2 linked regions of the Homo sapiens genome follow. The protein of the gene in region 1 purifies or fractionates together with the protein of each later gene. This does not show direct contact. Each region holds a gene or a part of one and is shown in the gene's direction. Other genes may lie near its edges.

Evidence for each region. The genes of interacting proteins can lie anywhere in the genome.
Region 2: the proteins of NACA (region 1) and FKBP3 purify together in Homo sapiens (affinity purification with mass spectrometry, with the first as the bait; one large-scale study listed by BioGRID). This does not show direct contact.

The regions. Positions count from the first base shown.
Region 1 is NC_000012.12:56,714,464-56,719,545, reverse strand, and holds part of NACA (nascent polypeptide-associated complex subunit alpha), read left to right. Parts: coding exon 1-3,675; intron 3,676-4,858; coding exon 4,859-4,944; intron 4,945-5,082. UniProt on the Homo sapiens protein: Cardiac- and muscle-specific transcription factor. May act to regulate the expression of genes involved in the development of myotubes.
Region 2 is NC_000014.9:45,116,748-45,121,829, reverse strand, and holds part of FKBP3 (peptidyl-prolyl cis-trans isomerase FKBP3), read left to right. Parts: intron 1-209; coding exon 210-345; intron 346-875; coding exon 876-943; intron 944-3,704; coding exon 3,705-3,802; intron 3,803-5,082. UniProt on the Homo sapiens protein: FK506- and rapamycin-binding proteins (FKBPs) constitute a family of receptors for the two immunosuppressants which inhibit T-cell proliferation by arresting two distinct cytoplasmic signal transmission pathways. PPIases accelerate the folding of proteins.

The DNA.
Region 1 (5,082 bases):
CTGCCAAAGGTACCTCAACTTATACAACTACAGCCAGCCCTTTTCTAGAAGGAACTGTCTCTTTAGCTCCTAAAAACCACCCAGTTAAGGAAGGTACTCTTACTACTTTACCCTTGGTTCCTACAGCTTCAGAAAATTGCCCTGTGGCTCCATCCCCCCAGAATACCTGTGCTCCTCTGGCTACCTTAGTGCTGGCCCCTGAAATCCCAAAGTCTGTGCCCTCACCCTCTCTTCCCCCAGCTGGGACTCCTCCAGGTACAAAAAAGGTTGATGGTATTTCTCATACTTCAGCATTGGCACCTGTTGCTTCCTCTCCCAAAGAGTGCCCAACTGAGGACTCTGGTGCTTCTGCTACTGCATCTTCCAAAGGAACTCTGACTTACCTAGCTGATTCCCCATCTCCTTTAGGGGTTAGTGTGTCTCCTCAGACTAAAAGACCTCCAACCAAGAAGGGTTCTGCTGGCCCTGATACTCCTATTGGAAATCTCTCATCCCCTGTTTCTCCAGTTGAAGCTTCATTTCTTCCAGAGAATAGTCTTTCTTTCCAAGGCTCTAAAGACTCACCAGCCACGACGCATTCTCCCACTCCTCCATCCCCCAAAGGGGCCCCTACTCCCTCAGCTGTGACTCCTCTGTCTCCCAAAGGAGTAACACTACCCCCCAAAGAGACCCCCACTCCTTCAGTGGTGAATCTGCCCTTCCCCAAAGAGGGTCCAGCTACTCCAGCACCCAAACAGGCTCCTGCTCTATCCATGACTTCTTCCTCCCCCAAAAAGGCCCGAGCAACTCCAGCCCCTAAAGGAATCCCAGCTTCCCCATCCCCCAAAGGGGCCCCCACACCCCCAGCTGCAACTCCTCCCTCCCCTAAAGGAGGCCCAGCTACCCCATCCCCGAAATGGGCCCCCACACCCCCAGCTGCAACTCCTCCCTCCCCAAAAGGAGGTCCAGCTACTCCATCCCCCAAAGGGGCCCCCACACCCCCAGCTGCAACTCCTCCCTCCCCCAAAGGAGGTCCAGCTACTCCATCCCCCAAAGGGGCCCCCACACCCCCAGCTGTGACTCCTCCCTCCCCCAAAGGAAGTCCAGCAGCTACCCCATTCCCCAAAGGGGCATCCACACCCCCAGCTGCAACTCCTCCCTCCCCCAAAGGAAGTCCAGCAGCTACCCCACTCCCCAAAGGGGCCCCCACAACCCCAGCTGCAACTCTTCCCTCCCCAAAAGGAGGTCCAGCTACCCCATCCCTCAAGGGGGCCCCCACTCCCCCAGCTGCGACTCCTCCCTCCCCAAAAGGAGGCCCAGCTACCCCATCCCCCAAAGGGGCCCCCATGCCCCCAGCTGCAACTCCTCCCTCCCCAAAAGGAGGTCTAGCTACCCCACCCCACAAAGGGGCACCCACAACCCCAGCTGCAACTCCTCCCTCCCCAAAAGGAGGTCTAGCTACCCCACCCCCAAAAGGGGCCCCCACAACCCCAGCTGCAACTCCTCCTTCCCCAAAAGGAGGTCTAGCTACCCCACCCCCAAAAGGGGCCCCCACAACCCCAGCTGCAACTCCTCCTTCCCCAAAAGGAGGTCTAGCTACCCCATCCCCCAAAGGGGCCCCCACAACCCCAGCTGCAACTCCTCCCTCCCCAAAAGGAGGTCTAGCTACCCCATCCCCCAAAGGGGCCCCCACAACCCCAGCTGCAACTCCTCCCTCCCCAAAAGGAGGTCTGGCTACCCCATCCCCCAAAGGGGCCCCCACAACCCCAGCTGCAACTCCTCCCTCCCCAAAAGGAGGCCCAGCTACCCCACCCCCCAAAGGGGCCCCCACTCCCCCAGCTGCAACTCCTCCCTCCCTAAAAGGAGGTCTAGCTACCCCACCCCACAAAGGGGCCCCCAATCCCGCAGTTGTAACTCCTCCCTCTCCAAAAGGAGGCCCAGCTACCTCACCCCCCAAAGGGGCCCCCACTCCTCCAGCTGCAACTCCTCCCTCCCCAAAAGGAAGCCCAGGTACCCCACCCCCCAAAGGGGCCCCCACTCCCCCAGCTGTAACTCCTCCCTCCCCTAAAGGGACCCCTACTCTCCCAGCTACAACTCCCTCCTCTAAAGGAGGCCCAACTACTCCATCCTCCAAAGAGGGCCCCACTCCCCCAGCTGCAACCCCCTCCCACAAAGGAGGTCCCGCTATGACTCCTCCCTCCCCCAAAAGAGGACCAGCTATCCCATCTCCCAAAGGGGACCCCACTTCCCCAGCAGTGATTCCTCTCTCCCCCAAAAAGGCTCCAGCAACTCCAGTCACCAGAGAAGGCGCAGCCACCCCATCCAAAGGAGATCTCACTCCCCCAGCAGTGACTCCTGTCTCCCTCAAAAAGGCCCCAGCAACTTCAGCCCCCAAAGGAGGCCCAGCTACCCCATCCTCCAAAGGGGATCCCACCCTCCCAGCAGTGACTCCTCCTTCCCCCAAGGAGCCCCCAGCCCCCAAACAAGTTGCCACTTCTTCCTCTCCCAAAAAGGCCCCAGCAACTCCAGCCCCCATGGGGGCCCCCACTCTGCCAGCTGTGATTCCTTCTTCCCCCAAAGAGGTCCCAGCTACCCCATCCTCCAGAAGGGACCCCATTGCCCCAACAGCGACTCTTCTCTCTAAAAAGACCCCAGCAACTCTAGCCCCCAAAGAGGCCCTCATTCCCCCAGCTATGACTGTTCCCTCCCCTAAAAAGACCCCAGCAATTCCAACCCCCAAAGAAGCCCCAGCTACCCCATCCTCCAAAGAGGCCTCCAGTCCCCCAGCAGTGACTCCTTCCACTTACAAAGGGGCCCCATCCCCCAAAGAGCTCCTCATTCCACCAGCTGTGACTTCTCCTTCCCCCAAAGAGGCACCTACTCCTCCAGCTGTGACTCCTCCATCCCCCGAAAAGGGCCCAGCAACTCCAGCCCCCAAAGGGACTCCCACTTCCCCACCTGTGACTCCTTCCTCCCTCAAAGACTCCCCTACTTCCCCAGCTTCTGTCACATGTAAAATGGGGGCCACTGTTCCTCAAGCATCTAAAGGGCTTCCAGCAAAGAAAGGCCCCACAGCTCTGAAAGAAGTACTTGTTGCCCCAGCTCCAGAAAGCACGCCAATCATCACAGCTCCCACTCGGAAAGGTCCACAGACCAAAAAGAGTTCTGCTACTTCACCTCCTATATGCCCAGATCCCTCAGCTAAGAATGGTTCTAAAGGACCCCTTTCCACAGTGGCTCCAGCCCCTCTACTCCCTGTTCAGAAAGACTCTTCAAAGACAGCAAAAGGCAAAGATGCTTCTCATTCCCCAAAGGGCCCCTTGGCTCCTCCTGAGTCTAAGGCGTCCACCCCTCTAACAGCAGCTGCCTTTGAGAAGGTCCTTCCTAAACCTGAATCAGCATCTGTCTCTGCAGCACCCTCCCCACCAGTCTCTCTGCCTCTTGCTCCCTCCCCAGTTCCCACTCTGCCTCCTAAACAGCAATTTCTGCCGTCCTCTCCTGGGCTGGTGTTGGAATCACCCTCTAAACCCCTTGCCCCTGCTGATGAGGATGAGCTGCTGCCTCTGATTCCCCCGGAACCAATCTCTGGGGGAGTGCCTTTCCAGTCGGTCCTCGTCAACATGCCCACCCCTAAATCTGCTGGAATCCCTGTCCCAACCCCCTCTGCCAAGCAACCTGTTACGAAGAACAACAAGGGTATTTGCCTTGGTTTGCCGTGTGCATGGTGTGTCTGTCGTCCACACCCCTCTTGGGCGCTACCCACCAATACTAACCCTGTGATGCGCCGCTTTCTCCAGTGAATCTGCTTGGGTTTGGATGTAGAACATAGAATGATAATTTTAAATGCAAAAGTTCTAGGAATATGAAACCAAATCTTGGTTTTCATTACTTCAGATAGATACATAGTACATTGTGTATCATTTTTGTGTAATGTGGCCCGGACTACCCTGAGCCTGCCATGCCATCTATTTTACCTAATTGATCTGACATTGAAAACCAAGACCTGCCAGACCTTTTCATTTGCTCTAATCCCTACCACATCACTAACTAACCTTGTCCCTGGGCCTGAGATTTGGTAAAATTATTGGAGAATTGAACTATTTGTATTTATTTTTCCATTATTAGACTTAGTAATGACCAGTTGCCCAGGGACTCCCTTTTCATAAAAATGTAGAAATCTGTTTTTCCTAGCCTGAAAATGGTGCAGGTGTATGCTTTTTTTCCTCAGTAGTCTTTACTGATGCTTGGCCTTTGAATTGAAAGAAATTTATGTGAATTATGTTTGGAAAAACTAGAGATATAGGTCATCATCATTGAGAATCTTCTAATTATATTGATTAGATCACATTGCTGGGGTGAATGGTTTGAAAATGAGGCTGAATATGTGTACGTGTCTGCTTTTGACTTCCTCCAACCCAGTTTAAAAGTTGAGGGGAAAACCACCCAACCTGTTGTGCCTCCACGGTGTGATTTTGGTTTTTTCACTTAAGTGTATCTGGGGGCACCTTCTGACAGAACTTTACAGGGATAATTGGACTATTGGGTAAAATTTTAGAGTCATATGGGTCATTATTTGCCTGTGCCAAGAAACAAAGACCTTGAGGGAAAGAAAGCAGTTACAGTATATTAAACTGCTCAGCTATTTCTAGTGATTAGTCCTCATTTCTGGGGTTAGGGCTGGGTCTTTACTAGATGTGTACCCGCTAGTTAGTGACTAAGTTAGGGGCTATCAAGCTGACTTCACACAAGCCAGTTGGTTTACATTTAACATTCTTAGGTCTAGCATGAGGCATTCACCTCTAGTCCAGGGCAGGCTGTGGTGAAGTACCTTCTCTTATAATTTCTACTATAAAGCAGTAAAAGTTGTTTCTCATCTTAGGGTCTGGAACAGAATCTGACAGTGATGAATCAGTACCAGAGCTTGAAGAACAGGATTCCACCCAGGCAACCACACAACAAGCCCAGGTGGGTATTCTCTTACTAACTGGTATTGGGTCAAAGAAGCAGGGTTGATCAGGGCAACTTTTGTATTTGGAACTGTGAACCTTCATAAAGGAAAACCCACAAGGAGATTGTGCTATCCAGATCTTAGATTCTGGTTAA
Region 2 (5,082 bases), on another chromosome or scaffold:
AGTTATTTGAAATTAAATTATAGATGTGTAAGTTACTAATAGTCACATCACAGCCTTGAAATTAGATACTGAGGGTTTTGTTTGTTTATTTATTACCAAATCCATCAAACTCTTTAAACTGACTTTGGTCATTGTTGGCTATTGTTTGTCATTCTTTTAAAGGACACAAATTAATAACTCTGTGTGTGTGTGTTGTTTTTTGTTTTTAGGGTCCACCAAAATATACTAAATCTGTTCTGAAAAAGGGAGATAAAACCAACTTTCCCAAAAAGGGAGATGTTGTTCACTGCTGGTATACAGGAACACTACAAGATGGGACTGTTTTTGATACTAATATTCAAACAAGTAAGTCTAAATGGAATCTTATGTTTTTGGCTTAAAGAGATTCTAAATACTTGGGTGGCAGACAGATGAGTAGTTAGCAGTACCTTTTTCCTGACTGTCACCTACTTTCATCCAGACATACTTTCCCCCAAGATCTACTTGGAAGAGGTCTTCAGTTCACTGATTATTGGCTGGCTAAAGACCTCTTGTTCTTTGGAAAGCAAAAGATAAGGAATCTCAGTCTAAACCTGGTTAATGTCCCAAAGTAAGGCATTAGTATTTGAATAGAAAAGGCAGGATAGTATGCTGTTTTGTGATATAAGTATAGGTCCTACCCCTCTACCCTTTGTTAAGAATGTAATTATTTTTACAGCCAGAATTTTATTGATGGATGATCTTTGTAAATTTTTTCCTTCTTTTAAAATACATAGTATTGTAATTCTGAAATCAAACCACTATATTTTTCCACTGGAATTTAATAATTTCCAATGGAAATTTCTTAATAATAAATTAGAGTATATCATTAATGATAAGGAAAATCTGTTTTACAGGTGCAAAGAAGAAGAAAAATGCCAAGCCTTTAAGTTTTAAGGTCGGAGTAGGCAAAGTTATCAGAGGAGTAAGTAAAGAATGCCAATGAATCAGTAGATATTCTGGCATATGCTGCTTCTGGTATGGTGCTGTAAAGAATTAGGTTTGGGGATATAATACAAAGGAAACAGACTTTGGAGTCTGACAGATTGGGTATAATCATTGTTAGCTGATCTTGCACAAGTTATCTCGGTCTCAGTTTCGCTACATATAAAATGAGGACAGTACTGCCTACCTCAAGGTTTTTAGAAGATTAAATGAGCATAACTTGAAGTACCTAATACAGTAGGGGCTTAAATATTAGTCCCTTCCATGTGTACCCATTTTATTATTTTTCTTCATAAAGTAAGTCTTTGTCAGAATGTTTGGCCCTCTAAATTTAAGGTTCCTGTAAAATGTCTTATAACTGTTGTACCATTTACATATAATTTGCAAAGGTAAAATATCTGTCCCACTGAAGTATTCACAGAAGCAGAGTTTGTTTCTGCAGCCTTTTCACCTCATACAACATAGGCTGCAATACCAGAAAATCATTCAAACATGAGCATGCTTTAACCTACACTTATATGTGAGAGATAACAGAAAGAAACTTTGAGAAAAGAGGAAGTTAGGCTTGACCCGTACTGACCATTATACTGTACAAAAGAAGATAAAAGAGTAGGGCAGACTGTCACCTTCTATGAATCAGGTTTTCATGCTAAGGCCTGCCCATTGTGCCCATTGTTTGTTTTAAATTGTTATTCTCAGAACATCAGACATCAATAACTGAAATGCCTATTTAAATGCAGTTATAGGAACCTTCAATATATTACTCTCTGTACAATCAGTAGGTCCTAAGATATGGTTCAGACAATCATATACAGAATATAAAACATCTTAAAACTAAAGGTTTAGTTGAGCATAACTTATAATTGTTACCTGCCCCAGCCAGGCGTGGTGGCTCATGCCTGTAATTGCAGCAATTTGGGAGGCCGAGGTGGGTGGATCACAAGGTCGGTCAGGAGATCGAGACCATACTGGCTAACACTGTGAAACCCGTCTCTACTAAAAATACAAAAAATTATCTGGGCATGGTGGCACTTGCCTGTAGTCCCAGCTACTTGGGAGGCTGAGGCAGGAGAATTGCTTGAACCTGGGAGGTGGAGGTTGTAGTGAGCTGAGATCACGCCACTGCACTCCAGCCTGGGCAACAGAGCAAGACTCCATCTCAAAAAAAAAAAAAAAATTGTTACCTGCCCGTACCAAGTTGATAGCAAGTATATTATCAAATTGGGCCATTTTTCTATTTCTGTAACTTATTTGCATACTGGTAAATTTCTTCTAGTCTACCGTATTCTTTTTTTTTGAGACGGAGTTTTGCTCTTGTTGTCCAGGCTGGAGTACAATGGTGCAATCTCGGCTTACTGCAACCTCTGTCTCCTGAGTTCAAGCGATTCTCCTGCCTCAGCCTCCCGAATAGCTGGGATTACAGGCATGCGCCACCACACCTAATTTTGCATTCCTAGTAGAGATGGGGTTTCATCATGTTGGTCAGGCTGGTCTTGAGTGCTGACCTCAAGTGATCGCCCTCTTCATCTTCAGCCTCCCAAAGTGCTGGGATTACAGGCACGAGCCACCTTGCCCGGCTAGTCTACCATATTCTTATTTTCCAAATGTGACCACCCTAACTTTGTCCCTTGTGCTTTATATGATTGTTGCATTTCAATACAGCATATAATATTAGGAATATTATCCCTTTGGTGATGTGGATTTAACTGTTTGTGGAAACTAGCTTTAAGATCCAAATTTGGAAAATATGGAGAGGCCAACCCAGAAGACTTTTATTGTTTCTTTGAAAAGTTAGTTTTACCTTTTGCAAAAGATCTTAGTGCCGTAACATTTTAAAAATTGTATTTCCAAAATTAGCTGGGCATGCCTGTAATCCCAACTACTAGGGAGGCTGAGGCAGGAGAATCGGTTAAACCCGGGAGGCAGAGGCTGCAGTGAGCCAAGATCACGCTATTGCACTCCAGCCAGGGCAACAAGAGCGAAACTCCATCTCAAAAGAAAAAAAGAAAAAAATGTATTTTATGTGCCAACGTGACTCCACTATTACAATCTGGTAATCTTAAAACAATTTTACAGTGAGTACTTGCCAGTGTATTCCAATAAAAATAAACTCGTTTGTCCTGTGATGTAAAAGTGTTGCAGGTTTATGATGGTGCTAATAACTAACTGGTTTTCATAATGTATGGCATGTTACAGTTTACAAAAAGTTTTTTTTTTGTTTTTTGTTTGTTTGTTTGAGAAGGAGTCTCACTCTGTTGCCCAGACTGGAGTGCAGTGGCTCAATCCTGGCTCACTGCAACCTCCACCTTCTGGGTTCAAGTGATTCCCCTGCCTCAGCCTCCCGAGTAGCTGGGATTACAGGCACCCACCACCGCACCCAGCTAATTTTTTTATTTTTAGTAGAAGATGGGGTTTCACTATGTTAGCTAGGCTGGTCTCAAACTCCTGACCTTAAGTGATCTGCCCACCTCGGCCTCCCAAAGTGCTGGGATTATAGGTATGAGCCCCAAAAGGTTCTTTTCACATTAAAAAAGCCCTGCTTAAAATACCCTTTTTTTTCTATTGAAGAAATGGAAGACAAAGATTTAGGGACTCACTGAAGTACATTATCTTAGAATATAGTGAAATCTATAGTAATAGATTCTGTGTTTGTTTTAACATACAATCTTGTCTTGACTGTCCTGGTATTGCATGTGCTTTTTGCAAAATACCATTAGTTTTTATTTTGTTCTTGCCTTTAGTGGGATGAAGCTCTCTTGACTATGAGTAAAGGAGAAAAGGCTCGACTGGAGATTGAACCAGAATGGGCTTACGGAAAGAAAGGACAGCCTGATGCCAAGTATCCTTTTTTCCCCTTCATAATTAAAGTTGAAAAAAAAAAAACGTCTAGATCACCTTTGAGGATGTGAAAGATGCTGTCTAGGCAAACTTCTGGATCAAGAATCCTGTCCAGACTAGTCTTCCTGATCTTTAGATGCTTATGTGTCAGCACCTCCAATAGGCAATAGTATTTTCTATTGATATAAAGTTCAAACCTCAGCTAGAATTTTTGTTTCTCTTATTCAAATTCTTAACTTTCAAGACCTTAACTGTGAAGTTTAAGCTTAAACAGCAATTCTTAATGTTTTTAAGAGTTTAAGAAAAGTTACCATGCCCAGTACAAACTGTAGCAAACTACGATGCAAATATGGCTCATGGTAATTTTATGGTACAGTATAATTTCAGGCAATTAAATTCAAAGCTTAGAAATGGAATAGATGTGGGAGATTACCAGTTGTGAACTGAAGGAGACCACAGAATCAACAGTGTTAGTGTAAGCATTTATTATTACTACTAATGACAATACTCACTGATAAGTCCAGTTTGTGAACATTTAAAAAAAAAATAAGGAATGACTCCAGACCATTAAGACCAGACCAATCCAATAGGTAAGAGGGAAGGTAAGTTTATGGCTTTTGTTGGTTCCATTCCTCTTGGACCCATCAGATTAAGTTTGAAAAAACAAGTCCTTTGGGAGGCAGCTTTCTGTAGTCTTAGCAGATAAACATATTTGGGAATATAATAGCTCTCTTAGCTTTTCAAAATCAAATGAACAGGCTGGGCACCATGGCTAATGCCTGTAATCCCAGCACTTTGGGAGGCCAAGGAGGGCAGATCACCTGAGGTCAGGAGTTCAAAACCAGCCTGGCCAACATGGTGAAACCCTACCTCTACTAAAAATACACAAATTAGCCAGGCGTGGTGTTGCAGGCCTGTAATCCCAGCTACCCTGGAGGCTGTGGCAGGAGAATCACTTGAACCTGGGAAGCAGACGTTGCAGTGAGCTGTGATCATGCCACTGCACTCCAGCCTGGAGGAAAGAGTGAGGCTCTGTCTCGGTGGGGGGGGCGGGGAAATCAAATGGTCAGCTGCAGCTCCCTCTCCCATGTGAAGAAGCATCTCAAGACCAATCTGATGCACATATAAATTATATAACTCTTAAGTTAGCATATTTTGTTTTGGTTTTTTTTTGAGACAGGGTCTCGCTCTGTCACCCAGGCTGGAGTGCAGCAGCGTGATCTCAGCTTGCTGCAACCTCTGCCTCCCGGGCTCAAGCAATTCTCCTGCCTCACCCTCCCT